3 linked regions of the Homo sapiens genome follow. The protein of the gene in region 1 interacts with the protein of each later gene in a pairwise test. Each region holds a gene or a part of one and is shown on either strand. Other genes may lie near its edges.

Evidence for each region. Proteins that work in one complex are often made in the same cells at the same time.
Region 2: the proteins of SQLE (region 1) and ZNF641 interact in a two-hybrid assay, tested with the Homo sapiens proteins (one large-scale study listed by BioGRID and IntAct).
Region 3: the proteins of SQLE (region 1) and CREB3L1 interact in binary tests that used the Homo sapiens proteins (3 or more experiments, as listed by UniProt).

Annotation. Positions count from the first base shown.
Region 1 is NC_000008.11:125,010,826-125,016,183, reverse strand, and holds part of SQLE (squalene monooxygenase), read right to left. Parts: intron 4,648-5,358; coding exon 4,552-4,647; intron 1-4,551. UniProt on the Homo sapiens protein: Catalyzes the stereospecific oxidation of squalene to (S)-2,3-epoxysqualene, and is considered to be a rate-limiting enzyme in steroid biosynthesis.
Region 2 is NC_000012.12:48,343,418-48,348,775, forward strand, and holds part of ZNF641 (zinc finger protein 641), read right to left. Parts: intron 4,699-5,358; coding exon of another isoform or gene 4,674-4,698; coding exon 4,490-4,673; intron 3,927-4,489; coding exon 3,835-3,926; coding exon of another isoform or gene 3,732-3,834; intron 2,058-3,731; coding exon 1,928-2,057; intron 1,296-1,927; coding exon 1,182-1,295; intron 311-1,181; coding exon 1-310. UniProt on the Homo sapiens protein: Transcriptional activator. Activates transcriptional activities of SRE and AP-1.
Region 3 is NC_000011.10:46,279,806-46,285,163, reverse strand, and holds part of CREB3L1 (cyclic AMP-responsive element-binding protein 3-like protein 1), read right to left. Parts: intron 1-5,358.

The sequences.
Region 1 (5,358 bases):
AAGAAAAAATAACAGAGAACTTCCCAAATCTAGAGAAAGATATCAATATTCAAGCACAAGAAAGCTACAGAACACCAAGCAAGGATTGGTGATTGATTTAATCCAAACAAGACTAGTTCAAGCCATTTAATAATCAAACTCCCAAAGGTCAAGGATATAGAAAAGATCCTAAGAGCAACAAGAGAAAGGAAACAACAAACAATGGAGCTCTAGTATGTCTGGCAGTAGACTTAGTGGAAATCTTACAGGCCAGGAGAGAGGGGCAAGACACACTGAAAGTGCTGAAGGAAAAGAACTTTTATGCTACAATAGTATATCCAGTGAAAATATCCTTCAAACATGAAGGAGAAATAAAGACTTTCCCAGACAAACAAAAGCCGAGGGACTTCATCAACACCAAACTTTCCCACAAGAAATGCCGAAGTGAGTTCTTCAATCTAAAAGAAAAGGACCTTAACGAGCAGTAAGCAATTACATGAAGGTACAAAACTCACAAAAGTTAAAAAGCAAGGAGGATAAAGTGTAGAGTTTTTATTAGTTTTCTCTGCTCGTTTGTGGAATCAGTTGTCATCAGTTTAAAATAATCGGTTATAAGATATGACCTGCAAGCTTCCTGGTAATTTCAAATCAAAAGCCTACAAGAGGTAGGCAAAAAAATTAAAAGCAAGAAATTAAAACATACTACCAGAGAAAATTACCTTCACAGAAAGGAAACAGGACGGAAGAAAAGACAGCAAAACAATCAGAAAACAAAAACAAAATGGCAATAGTACGCACTTACCAATAATAACATTCAATGTAGATGGACTAAACTCCACTCGAAAGGCGTAAGTGGCTGAATGGATTTAAAAAAAGAACCAACGATCTGCTGCCTAAAATAAACACACTTCACCTATAAAGCCACAAAGAGACTGAAAATGAAGGGATGGAAAAAGATATTCCATGCAAATGGAAACCAAAAAAGAGCATAGTGATATTTACATCAGTAAAATAGATTTCAAGACAAAAACTATAAAAAGAGGCAAAGAAGGTCATTAGATAATGATAAAGGGGTCAATTCAGCAAGAGGATGTAACAATTACATATGCACCCAATACCGGAGCACTCAGATATATAAAGGAAATATTATTAGAGCTAAGGAGACAGACCCCAATACAATCATGGCTGGAGACTTCAACACCCCACCTTCAGCACTGAATAGATCATCCAGACAGATAAACAACAAACATCAGACTTAATCTGGACTACAGGCCAAACAGACCTAACAAATATTCACAGAACATTTCATCCAACAACTGCAGAATACACATTCTTCTCCTCAGCAAATCGATCATTCACAAGGATAGATCATGGGTAGGCCACAAAACAAGGCTTAAAAAATTCAAAAAACAATTGAAATCATATCAAGTATCTTCTCTGACCACAGTGGAATAAAACTAGAAATCAGTACTATGAGGAACTTTGGAGACTGTGTATACAAACACATGGAAATTAAACCACATGCTCTTGAATGACCAGTGGGTCAATGAAGAAATTAAGAAGTAAATATAAAAATTTCTTGATAGAAATAAAAATGCAAAGACAATATATAAAACCTGTGAGACACAGCAAAAGCAATACTTAAAGGGAAAGTTTTTAGCAGTAAGTGCCTACATCAAAAAAGCAGGAAAACATCAAATAAACAACCTAACAGTGCATCTCAACCAGAAAAGCAAGAGCAAACCAAACCCCAAATTAGTAGAAAATAATAAAGATCAGAGCCAAAATAAATGAAATGAAAAAAATACAAAAGATAACAAAATGAAAAGTTGGTTCTTTGAAAAGATAAAATCAGCAAACCTTTAAGACAAACTAAGAAAAAAGAAAGAAAACCCAATTAACTCCTTTTCCTGTTCCTATGTCAGCAAATGGCTGGCAAAACTATCTAAGCCAGAAACCTGGAATTTACATCAAGAGATTTCACTCTCATTATAATATCCAAATCATCACGTTTTTTACATTCTACATCCTAGATATTACCCAAATTTATTCATTACCTTTCATTTTACAACCCTAGTTCTGGCCTTTTATCATCATTGACAGAATAATTAATCTTAGTGTATGTTTTACTAGACTTTCCTCCAAACCATCCTCCACAAAAATGTCAGAGTATATTCCTGAAATAAAAGTCTAATCATGCCACTGCCTCTTTAAGAAAATTCCATTTACAAAAGTATCAAAAAAGGTAAAATACTTAGGAATAAATTTAACAAAAGAAATGCAAAACTTATACTCTGAAAACTACAAAATATTGTTGAAAGAAACCCTTACCTTTCAGTCAAGGGAATTTTGACCACAAGGGCAAGAAAATTCACTGGGGAACAAACAGTCTTTTCAACAAATGATACTGGGACAACTGAATATCCACACACAAACAAATCAAGCTGGACCCCTTCCTCTCAACAGACACAAAATTTAACTCAAAATGGATCAAAGAGCTAAATTTAAGAGGTAAAACTATAAAACTCTTAGAAGAAAATATAGGAGTAACAGGCCAGGCATGGTGGCTCATGCCTGTAATCCCAGGACTTTGGGAGGCTGAGGTGGGTGGATCACCTGAGGTCAGGAGTTTGAGACCAGCCTGGCCAACATGGCGAAACCCCGTCTCTACTAAAAATACAAAAATTAGCTGGGCACGGTGGCGAGCACCTATAATCCCAGCTACTCGGGAGGCTGAGGCAGGAGAATTGCTTGAACCTGGGAGGCCGAGGTTGCAATGAGCCGAGATCGCACCATCGCACTCCAGCCTAGGCGACAAGAGCGAAACTCCATCTCAAAAAAAAAAAAAGAAAAAGAAAACATAGGAGTAAATCTTTTTGAACTTAGATTGGACAAAGCCTTCCTAAATATGACATCAAAAGCACAAGCAACGAAAGAAAAAATAAACATGAAAATTTAAACCATGTGTACTTCAATGGAAACCATTAAGAAGAATGGAAAGAAAACCCACAGAATGAGAAAAATTTTGCAAATCACATATCTAATAAGGGACTTGTACCTAAAATATATAAAGGACTCTTGAAACTCAACAATACATAAATTTTAAATCTGCCCAATTAAAAAAATATGCAAAGTCTAAATATACATTTCTCCAAACAACAAATGGCCTATATGCATATGAAAAGATGTTCAACATCATTATCTATGAGAGAAATGCAAATCAGCACAATGATAAAAGGCCTAGTTCACACTACTAGGATGGCTATGCACACAAAGATAATACAAGTGTTCACTGACAAGGATGTGGAGAAATTAGAACTCACACACTGCTGAAAGGAATGTAACTGGGACAGCTATTTTGGAAAACAAGTCTAGCAGCTCCTCAAAAAGTTAAACGTGAACTACTATGTAATCCAGCAATATCACTCTTGGGTATATAACCAAGAAAAATGAAAATATATGTCCACACAAAAACTCGCACACAGATGTTCATAGCAGCATTGCTTGTAATAACCAAAAAGTAGAAACAACCCAAATATCTATCAATTGATGAATGGCTAAACAAAATGTAATATAGCCACACAATGGAAGATTATTTGGCCATAAAAACAAATGAAGAACTGAAACATGCTACAACATGAATGAACCTCAAAAACATTGTGCTAAATGAAAAGCCAGTTCCAAAGGGCTTTACTATACAATGCCTTTAGGAAACATCCCAAATAGACAAATCTAGACACAGAAAGTAAATTAGGGGTAGCCTAGGGCTGAGTGTTGGGAGGAAATGGGGAGTGAATACCAATGGGTACGGGGTTTCTTTGGGCAAGATAAAAATGTTCTAAATTTGATTGTGGTGGTGATGCACACACTGTGAATATACTAAAAAAGTCACTGTACTGTACACTTTAAATGGGCAAACTGATTTGTGAATTATATATCAATAAAGTTAGTAACAAGAAAACACTTCAAATGACTTTCCATTGTCTGTAAGATTAAATGTTAATGGTCTGTCTCCCACTCTGACACCCACCCTATGCTCCTGCCATAGGAAACTGCTTGAGTTCCTTGAAAGTGCCACCATTTCTCATCCTTTGGCAATGTTATTCCATCTACCTAGAAGTTCCTCATCTTAGTGTCCACCTCATGAACTCCCACTCATCCTCCAGGTCCAAGGTCCTTTGTTTCCACTGTTTCCTGAACAACGTCCTCCCTAACTACCCCTCCCATTTCACAAGCTTCCCTCCCTGCTCTGCACACTTCTTGACACTGAATCTGTGGGTTTTATTTATCAACAGTGTTGTAAAATTATCTGTCTACATTCCTAAGTAGAAAATTGCCTTCTCTAGGTCAAGGTCAGTTTTTTACCTGTTGTTTCCCTGACTAGCACAATACTTGTATACACTCAATGTTAACAACTAAATAGATCATAAAACTAATTTTGGTATTAATAATGCACTAATCCACAGTGACAAACTATCTGTCCCAGAAGTTATTCGTAACAGTATAAATTTAATCATATATTTGTCATTTGGAATACTGATTCCTTTATAAAATAAGCCCAAAAAATAATACCTCGTTTCTTCACTGATGAAGGAGGAAGGAAGCTTGCTGGCATGGACCTCAGATGAGAATTGTCAGTGGCTTCTAAGAATGGTTCTTTCAGGTGATCTGCAATAAATCCCACCAACCCAAAGAAATGGGTCATAACACTTCAATTTCAAAGTATCACATATTTTCTTATCAAGTATAAACAAATGCCTACTATACATCTGTTATGGTTGTTACATATATCCCTTGTGATAAATCAAGAACTAATTATTTCATTAATAAAATTATTCATTAAGCACTTAGCTGTTAATGCCAAGGAATGACTAAGGAATCTAAGAGAACATTAATATAAACATACATACAACTGAATGAAAAAACAATGAGGCAAATTCAGATGAAATGAAACAGGGAGAAAACCACCTACCTTTCTTCCAAATGTTAACAGACTACTGTCATATTTAATATTTAATGTATTATAATCAATATATTCTTGTAATAATCAGATGAAATACACTACCAATTCACAAACAGCAGGAGGGTATGTACACTAGAAAAGGAATTCGAGGCCAGCCCTACCTCTCTGAGCTTCAATTTCTTCATCTATAAAAATGAAATGGTTTGATCAGCTCATCTCTGAGATACTTCCAAACAAGCTTTAAATTTCTGTGCTACTTATATAGAAAATGAACTGTCATACAATTCCCAGTGTGATCTGGGAATAGAGGAGCAGAAGCCTCTGTTAAAAATTATTCCATTCATATTAAGGAGTAGAATTTTGGTAATCTAACTAATATTAATATAAACCTACCAATGGTTTCTCTCCATAATTTC
Region 2 (5,358 bases), on another chromosome or scaffold:
GGTCTCTCCCCAGTGTGTGTTTGTTGATGCCTGGCAAGGTGGGAACCCCATACAAACTGTTTCCCACACTGGGGGCATGTGTGGGGTCTTAACAGGGAATCCATCTCTGTGCTACACAGCAGGTTTGAGAAACTATCTTCCTGAAGAAAAGGGGGCCCCAGGAGCATTCCTCTGGAGCTGCTGGGCATGGAATCCCAGCTCTCATCATGCTCCGGGTTCCAGAGAACAGTATCTTCAGACACGCTGGATAACATTCTGGGAGGTTCTGCTTCTAGTTCAGGGGTATCCCCCTCATGTTCACTTCCATCTCCTGCGGAGAAGGGGAAATACCAACCCCAAGAGAAGAGTCACAAGAGAGTGCTTGAGGCCTAAGTCACAAATGAGGTTGTCTGATACCTGCCAGGGCCCAGACTTGACCCCAGAAGGGCTGAGAGAACATAGTCTAATGTCGTACAAGACAGTGCAATAGATATAGAGGTTAAAAGCCTAGGCTTAGGAGGCAGATTACCTAAGATGGAATCTCAGCTTTCCCACTTAACTTCCCTAAACCTTCATTTCTTCTGTAAAATTGGAATAATACCTCTCTCTCCGGCAGTTATAAGATAGATAGCACAGAACCTGCACATAGTTTAAGTACTTAGTAAATTGTATATGTTATTGTTATTATTTATTACCATTATTTATTTACTACTGTATATTACTATTAATCAGCATCTTTCTATCTAAGCATAGATGGAGAGAATTACAGAATGTGCCGCAATTGTCACTGGCTGAATGACACCTGTCGGCAGTCCTCAAGGCATTCCTGAAATGGGTGGGAGGTTGACAACAATATCAACAATAACAACAACTAACATTTATTGAGTGCTTATTATGTGCTTGGCACTGTTCTATTCTAATATTCTAATATATTCATATATTTAATTTTCACAATAATTTACAGATGAAGAAACCAAAGGGAGTTTTATTACTTTTCCAAGGTCCCACAACTACAGCCCAGAATTCAAATCCACAAAGTGCCTGCTACATCATTCTATTACACTCCCTTGCTTTTGAAGAAAAAAATCTCTAAACCTTTTGTCTCTGGAACTCTCTGAGGCAGAGGAGGGATTAAACGAACATGGAATGATGATGTCCCGAACTGTGAAGGAAGTGGCTGAAAGCCTATTCTAGGTTCTTACCTGTATATGTGACCCTCAGAATGTCCCTCTCCTCTAAGTCCTGGGGGTCAGGGACCCATTGTTCTTCTCCTCCTTCTAGTTGAGAAAGCATGTCCAGTTTGGGAATTGGAAATCCTGCTCATGGGAAAGGAAAATAGAGCTGTCAATTAGTTCAACAGCAATTCTATATTTCTGAAAAAAAAATACAAAAAACTGTTTCCTATTGTTTGGAACTCTAGACAAAAGAAGGTCAAGAAAGAAACATATCCCCACCCCAACCTCTTCCCCCACCCATTTCTGTTAAGTCCCTCTTCTCTGCCTAGAAAATCACTCTCCTTCCCAATGAACCTGTTTTCTTCCACTCAGATACTTCCAGCCCAGCTGGCCTTTCTGGGCGTAACTTCACTTTAGTCCTACTACGACAGTCCTACTCCCTGCATCCCTATCTTCCTCTACATGGTTCCCAAGTTTACAAGGACCCAGTTCCAGTTCTCTCTGCTTTATGAGAACCTCCTAATTCCCAACCAAGAAGAACCTCAAGTTCTACTCCACAATTAAGCATCATTTGCTTTTTTACTTTTTTTTTTTTAATGATATTTACTCTCATTCTCTTGGGATTGGCCCTAGTGTTCTTTCTCCAGCGGAAGCATAGACAGATTCCCTGCCACATAAAGAGTCCTAGACAGACACTATCCAATAGCCCTGAAGCAGATGGCTCCGTCCTCCCAGAGTCCAATCTTCTAGTGGCTGGAGAAGGTCATGCTTACTCAGAGAGACTACTATCCCACAGTTTTCCTGCATGACATATTCTCCATAAAAGTCTGTCTGAGAGGGGTCCAGGCTCCGCCACTCCTCCTGAGAGAAGCACAGTGACACATCCTTGATGGTTACCAGGCCCTGAAACAAAATGTAGCATCTTCTGTCAGCAGCTGTTTTTTAAGGAAAATGTGATTCAGTATGAAAGGCTAAGTTAGTAGAGGAGAGAGGGTGAGAAATGATCTGAGAAAAGAGCTGCCCAGAAGTCCCTGGGTAGGGCACATAGTTTTGGTAACAGGGAAATGAGGAGAGGAGTAAAGGTAGATGGTCAAGGAGTGAGTGAGTGTAATGTTACTGGAGGAATTTCCCAAGTGGGGCCATGAGAAGCTGGAGGCACCATAAACTCATCACCACCTCTGTTTAGCTACAGGTGTCTACTCAGTCACTTCTCCCTGGCCTTACTCTTTTTATGAAGAAATTATGTACCATTTCCTCCTTCTTCCACTGGACCCTGCCTTTTCTATCAGCACAAAATGCTACAGATAAAACATTCTTTCTTGCCTCCCTTGCCACAGCATTTTTTTTTTTTTGAGACGGAGTCTCACTGTCGCCCAGGCTGGAGTGCAGTAGCACAATCTTGGCTCACCGCAACCTCCACCTCCCAGGTTCAAGCGATTCTCCTGTCTCAGCCTCCCAAGTAGCTGGAATTACAGGCACCCACCACTACACCCAGCTATTTTTTTTGTGGTGTTAGTAGAGACGGGGTTTCACCATGTTGGCCAGGCTGGTCTCGAACTCCTGACCTTGTGATTTGCCCACCTCGGCCTCCCAAAGTGCTGGGATTACAGGCATGAGCCACCGTGCCTGGCCATATCTTTATATTTTTAGGCAGCACAGTATGGTGGTTAGGAGCTCAGAATCTGGAGCCAAGTGACTCAGCTTTGCCACTTTCTTGCAGCATGACCTACACAAGTGCCTTAATCTCTCCCTGCCCCATTTCCTCATCTGTAAAATTGGATAACTGAGTTGTTCTCAGAATTAAATGAGTTAATATACATAAAGCACCCAGAAAATGGCATACATGATAAACACTCTGGGGGTGTACTCTATTAGTACTAACACTATTAGTATTAGCTTTCCACAGCTCTCCTATTGCCTTCTGAATCTAAACCTAATTTCCTTTCTAGCTCTGCCCCTCTTTATAACCTTCTTCCTCTTCTTTTCCATAAATGCTCCCTCATCTACCCAATCCTTCCACTTTAGGTTCTTCTAAGCTTTCTTCAGGTCCTCTTTTCCTAATCTTTCCAGATTTATTTCTTAAAGGAAGGTAATTAATTATTCTTAAAATCCTCCTGTGGATAACAAACACAGCCATCCATTAAAAACCCTAACCTTGGCCAGGCACGGTGGCTCATACCTGTGACCCCAGCACTTTGGGAGGCTGAGGTGGGCAGATCACCTGACGTCAGCAGTTCAAGACCAGCCTGGCCAACGTGGCAAAACCTTGTCTCTACTAAAAACACAAAAATTAGCTAGGTGTGGTGGCGTGTGCCAGTAGTCCCAGCTACTTGGGAGGCTGAAGCACAAGAATCGCTTGAACCCAGAAGGTGGAGGTTGCAGGGAGCCAAGATCATACCACTGCACTCCAACCAGGGCAACACAGTGAGATTCTGTCTCAAAAACAAAAAACAAAACAAAACTCAAAAAAACCCTAACCTCAAGGAATTCCCTTTCTTGTAGGTCCATTTAATTTTCCAAGGGTCTTATGACCCCTTGGAAAGGGATAGAATCTATTCAGTTATAAGATGAACATACCATTGATGATCATGTGAGCCAACTCATCAATGGGCTGATGCGAAAGCAATACAAAGGCAGCAGTGATGGGACCACAGGAGACGCCAAGGGAAGCAGAGCTCACCTGTGATCCAGCCGCAAGAAGTGCAGCTGCCATCTCCCAGTCTCCAGTGTTCCCCTCCTGGGGAATTGCAGGAACCCAGGGAGCAGACTGAGCTGATAAGGAGAGAGAAGAAACATTAGAGAATAACGATCTACCCTTTCTCAATGGGGCCTGGGCCCCATTTTAGAGAGGCTTAAGGGTCACAACTTCTGTATCTATGCCCATTGGTAAAACTCAAATGCATAAATGTAGATGAGAAGGCCATCACTCAAAATGTTCTGAAAGGGTATCAGATGGCTTTTAGTTAGACTAGCTATAGTTTGAATTTACAGTACTTGAATGTAATTTTCATCTAGTAAATTACATCTTACTGAGTGGGTTATCCAACAGTAATCAGGTTGCTGTCACTTCCTTCATCTCCCTCATTCAGTATCACTAATTATGCATTTGCATGTGGAGGGAGTAATTATGAAGAAACAAGAGAAGCCCAGTTGCATGGTTTGCTGAATTCAGGAGCCTATTCTGTACCTGTGACCAGGGCTGAGAAAGAATGGGCTGGTCCTGGTACAGGTTATGCTATTTAGTCCATGGCAATTTGGAGATTTTTAACCCTACTTTTGGAATAAATATTAGGAGACTATGCACTGTGCTTCCCACACACTCTGTGAGTTCTCACCCTTCTCCTGAAGGGACTGTGGCTCCTCTTCAAGGTCACAGCACAGGTGCTCCAGAGGTCCTGGTACTGTTCTCCATGGCCGCTCTTCCTGGCTTCCCCTTTCCACCTGGGGCTCTGCTCCATCCAGCTGTACATTCATTGATTCCCATCCTGTCCCCAGCGCTGCTGTCTGTTCTGAAAGCATTTCTGCTGCAGACCCAAATTGTGACCTGGAACAAATTCATATCAGCAATGCCCATGAAAATGGGAAAGGAGTGATATTTCTAAGGGAGTTATGAAGAACAGGCCCAGGGATAATAGACAAAACTAGATAGGAGGAGCTTGCTGGAAGATGAACTTTAAAAGCTTGATGTGTTCCGATCAACGGAGCCTGCACCAAGCTTCTTGGAGGAACTAAGAAATTGGCAGGTGCTACGTAGCAAAGCCACTAACTGGTATTTTGTGGACCTCATTATAGAAACAGAATATACCTGAAGGTTAGAAGAAGTTCATTTAAAAAAAAAGAACTGTCCTGGAAATTCAAAGGCTATCCATTTAATTTCAAGCACATGAAGTACAGGAAAGTAAGCAATTTGGAAACATACAGGAAGAAATACATATAGACCTGCACTCAACAAGATGGATGTAATCACACAGAAGATTTTCTGCCACAAATCACAGTCTCATCAGTTTAGAATGAAATGATTACTATAGGTAAAAGTCCCAACCAAGGGGCGTATTTGTATCATGAGGCTGGGCCAAAAGGTACCTCACTTGGGACAAGCCTCAATAAAAAGGCACTTGGTCTACCATCCAATGAAAACTGGTAGTAAATATGGTAGAAAAACTGATAACTTGGAAAGCAGGTGTTAAGACTCCAAAGTAATCCT
Region 3 (5,358 bases), on another chromosome or scaffold:
ACAGGGAGAAGACACAAAACAGGGATGTCCTTTATGCTCCCCTCTCCTGGTGCAGTAGCCAGGCCAGGCCAGGGCAGACAGAAACAGAGTCTCCTGAGGAGTCCTGGGAGCTGCAGAGAGCAAAGATCCAAGTCCCCAGAAGGGCTGGGGAACAGCATCCTGGGGGTGAATCTGATAGGGTGTGAAATGGGATGTGGGAGCTTATTCAGGGGATCTGGTTTTGCCCATAAAGCTCTAGGCATCCAAGGTGCCCTAAGGATGGGAGTGGGTGAGGATGAAGACAGGGACCCTGTGATATGAAAGATCCTGAATTTTCCTTGCTCTAGAGGGGAAATCTCAAACTAGAACAATGAGAGAACTTGCTTGTAGCTTCTTCTTGCTCCCCTCTTTGACTCTCCATAGGACTCCTGCCCTTGAGCAGAGTGCACAATGGATAATAATGCCTATACGTGTTCAGTAAAAGGAACATGGCCCCAGTCCCTGTGGAAATGCCTTTTTTTTTTTTTTTGGAGATGGAGTTTTGCCCTTGTTGCCCAGACTGGAGTGCAATGGTGCGATCTTGGCTCACTGCAATCTCCACCTCCTGGGTTCAAGCGATTCTCCTGGCTCAGCCTCCCAAGTAGCTGGGATTACAGGCACATGCCACCATGCCTGGCTAATTTTTTTGGTATTTTTAGTAGAGATGGGGTTTCACCATGTTGGTCAGGCTGGTCTCAAACTCCTGAACTCAGGTGATCCACCTGCCTCAGCCTCCCAAAGTGTTGGTATTATGGGCATGAGCTACCATGCCTGGCCAGAAAAGCCTTCTAATAACTCCTTTGCCACTAAGGAAGAGGGAAATTGGGGCAGCATGTGCAGAGATCACCTTCTGAGAAAGCTTTCATGACCTGTAGCCTGGCTCAGCCTCCTGCCATGCTCTGCTCCATCATGGCGCCCACCATGGTGTTGATACTGCCTATTTCCCTCTCTGTCTCTCTCATTCGTCCGCGATTGACTGGAGGGTCAAGTGTGTTTTCTTCATCTGGGTTACCCTGGCACCAGCATAGATGTTCCTTCAGTGCCCAGTTGCTGAAGGAATGGACATGTGTATTAATGAATGAGCAAGTGAATTCCCAGCTGGTCCAGGGAAGCCGGAGGGACCTCACAACATATCGGGGCACAGACAGCACTTCTGTGGGACCCAGCATCCCCACCACCCTAAGGGATGGCCAGTCCAGGATCCTGAAAACCCCAGGATCCCTTCAGGAATCATAAGTACACCTCTTGAACACTTAGATCTGATTTTTTGGGTCTTGCTCTGTTGCCCAGGCTGGAGTGCAGTGGCGTGATAATAGCTCACTGCAGCCTTGAACTCCTGGGCTCAAGTGATCATCCCACATCAGTCTCCTAAGCAGCCAGGACTTCAGGTATGTGCCACCATGCCTGGATAATTTATTTTTTATTTTTTGTAGAGACGGAGTCTTTCTGTGTTGCCCAGGCTGGTCTCAAACTCTTGGCCTCAAGTGATCCCCCTGCCTCCGCCTCCCAAAGTACTGGAATTACAGGTGTGAGCCACCACATCCAGCCTGGGATTTTTTTAAAACAATTTTTCCCTTCCCTTACAAGGATTGCCCCAGTCTAAAGTAATTTTCTCTACAAATATAGTAAGTCCTTGAAATAGAGCAAAGTTCACTACAATGTGACCCAAACTTGACTTCTGTTCTATGCTCAGGCCCCTTCTCAAATAAAAGTGAGCAAAACTCCATTCTCTATGGGGCTGGTAAAAAAAAGTGACTGCCTCATGCTCCTGTGGTACTCTTTCTGTTTGGTCTGCTTTGTGCAGTAAGGTGTCACAATTTTTACTTTCCTGCTTTTTGTGATAGTACAGACCATCTGAAAAATACTGTTTTTCGTTAATTCTACAAAAATATTACTCCACATTTTATGTAATTGGAAAATTTATTTTTAAATTTGTATTATTATTATTACTTTTAGAGACAGGGTCTGGCTTTGTTGCCCAGGCTGGAGTGCAGTGATGCCATTATGGCTCACTGCAGTCCCAACCTCCCCAGCCCAAGTGATCCTCCCTCCTCAGCCTCCTAAGTGGCTGGGACCACAGGCATATGCCACCATGCCCGGCTCATTTTTTTTTTATTTTTTGTAGAGACGAGGTCTCCCTATGTTGCCCAGACTGGTCTTGAACTCCTGGGCTCAAGCAATCCTCCTACCTTGGTCTCCCAAAGCATTGAGATTACAAGCATGAGTCACCGCAAAGGAACATAATTGGAAATTTTTGACTGGGCATATTTATTGCATTATTGTAGAATTTTACTACATTGAGCATCTATTTTGTCCCATGTGACTGTGCTAGGTTTATGTCAATGCACAAAACTGATATGGACTCTCCTCTTATGGAACTTACTTTCTCGTGGAGGAAATAGACAATAGGCCATTAAAATAATTGCAAACTGGGTTAAGGGCTAGAAGATATCAAAAGACTAAAACAGAAAAGAACAGGGGGGTCCCACTTTAGGTAGTCAGGGAGCGTTCCCTAAGGAGGCAATATTTGAGCTGGGATCAGAAGGCTGAGATGGACAGACTGGGGGAAAAGCAGTCCAGATGACAGGAACAGCATGTGCAAGGGCTCTGAGGCAGGGCTGGAAAAGGCTTAGTCTTAAATTGGGTGAGTATGGATCCAGGAGTCCTAGAGCAATCTGAAGAAGAAACTGGGGAAAACGGAAGCCCTAGAGACAGTGCTCAAGAGTGACACCTGAGCCACAAGTTCAAATCCCCTGTGGGTCAGCCAGCTGTAGACTATTCTAGACCAGGGGCTGCAGAGGCCTGTGCAGTAGGGGGATGGCTCAAGGTAATGAGAACTCATTAAAAACCATGGAGAGCCCTTCCTGGACCCCAGAGACAGTGCAGGGTCTGCAGGACCTCGATGGCTGCAAATAGATGGGCTTAAGGACACTTTTCCCTCTTCTCTAAGAATGTGGGGTCTGGTTTGGGCCCCTTTTTCTTCATCCATCCATCCATTCATTCATCCATCCATCGATTTATTCATTCATCAACGGTTGTTAGGCACTGGGATACAGCAGTGAACAAGACAGACCAAGCCCCTGACTCAAGGAACTGTTCCCTCAACACTGGGGGAAGCAAAACCCAAATCAAACCTCTGCTCAAAACGAACTTAATGTTTTGATAGAGTAGGTATCAGAGGTCTCCTTTCTGAATAGGCACCCTGAGATTTGGGCTCCTCCAGTAGGTTTTTCATTAGATCTTTTCTAGCAGATTGCACTCTGAGACCAGAGTGCCTTAGCACTTCTGTCCTCTTTCCTGTTGGTGAGAACTTAAACAGAAACACACACAAATCTCCCCTTTTAAGGACTGTTAAAGGCCCACCCACAGACATAGGAACACCCAAACACACATACTTCTCTAATCTCCCTAAATCTCCCGAAGGCTGGGGGTGGGGGTGCCTCTCTGCTTCCCAGTTAGCTCAGGAGAAGCCAGGCTAGGCGTGTGGGGAGTAGCGATCAGCCTTAGCCCCCACCGCCTCCCCGCAATGCTGGGCTGGTCCCTGGGTCCCCGTCACTCCCACACCTGGCCTCCCCAGCTGCAGGGAGTAAACGGGTGTGCTGGGCAAACATCCTTGCAGCTTCCTGCTGCTCCCCTCTGAGAAAACAGACCTTTTCTTCCTCCTCCTTCTCCTCCCCACACCCTCCCAGCTGGGGCTTCTCTGGGATCCCAAGCCAGTTCCCTCTAGAGAAGCCAGACATCCCTTCCCCTTAGCCAGAGGAAGGAGGGGACAGCACACAGACCTAGTGTTTCCATCTGGAGAAACGACCTGCTCTCCCTCTGGTCCTTTATCCCAGTTCTTGGAGCCCAGACCCTCTCTCTCATACTGGCCAAGGGGCTGAAGGACCACAGAGTACAGTGGCTCAAGGGTGGCCACATCAGAAACCATGGGAGAGCGGGAGGGGCAGGGAGGAGATGCCCCCACATGGGACAGGAAGGGCAGCCCCCTTCTGAGGATCTCTGAGAATCGCATAAACAGAATTGCAGCAACATGAAGGTATCCTCATAGAAAGAAAAATAAGGCAGCCCAGCCACCTCCAAACACACTTGTCTTGACTTTGTGTACTCACTCTCCTGTCTGTCCAAGTGCATGCGTATTTCTTGCATAGTTGTTTTCAGGGTGAGCATACATTTTGCATTTTGCACAGAGCAACAGAGCACACATGATTTCCACATGATTTATGGCCCGTATCTGGATTTTTAAGGAGGATAGCGAATATTCTGCTCTCCATTTTCCAGACTGAGAGGCACACAGACGCCATCCCTACCCATCCTTAACCCTGGAAACATTTTCCTATCCTCATGCAGAATGAAGAAGTTGGGGGAAGGGTTGGAATGGGATCTCAGCTGGAAAGAACCTCGGATATGGAGATGGAGACCCCAGAGAAGGAAAGTGACTTGCTATGTTCACACAGCAACTCGTAGCTGAGCAATTCTCACTATCACGCCCATCCAGTCTCTATGGATCAAGCCAACGATGAACGTTACATGCCAGGCATTGTGCTACATAACCTTCACTTTAATTTTCTCTCGAAATGCTTACAGTAATGCTATAGTTCTAATATTCCCATTTTTCAGATGAGGAAGTCAAAGCCCAGAAGAAGAAAAGTCACTTTTGGCCGGGCGCAGTGGCTCAAGCCTGTAATCCCAGCACTTTGGGAGGCCGAGGTGGGTGGATCACGAGGTCAGGAGATCAAGACCATCCTGGCTAACACGGTGAAACCCCGTCTCTACTAAAAATATAAAAAAAAATTAGCCGGGCGTGGTGGCGGGTGCCTGTAGTCCCAGCTACTCGGGACGCTGAGACAGGAGAATGGCGTGAACCCGGGAGGCGGAGCTTGCAGTGAGCCGAGATCGCGCCACTGCACTCCAGCCTGGGCGACAGAGCAAGACTCCGTCTGAAAAAAAACAAAAAACAAAAAACAAAAAAAAAAACAAGAAAAGAAAAGTCACTTTTCTGAATTGTCCCGCTGGCTGGTGGCAGAAACAGAGACAGAATTAAATCTCCTGATTCCCAGCCCAAGAGTCCTTTCTCTCTTTCCTTAGGCACCCCATCTTCTCCCGCTGCCTCTCCTGGCGCTGCCCCAGGTGCGAGATCAGGAGCCTCCCCAGCAGGGCTTTTCCTCCCCAGTGTCCTAGTGCTGGATCCCACTGTCTGGTCGTGCCTCTTTTCCTGTGCTGGACCAAGGCCCAGATAAGCAGCTGGGGATGCAGGGCTGAATGGAGCAGCAGGAAGAGGCTTCGGGCGGCCGAGTTCATTCAGAAGAAAGCCCAACTCAGAGCTGCCAAGGGCCGAGAGAA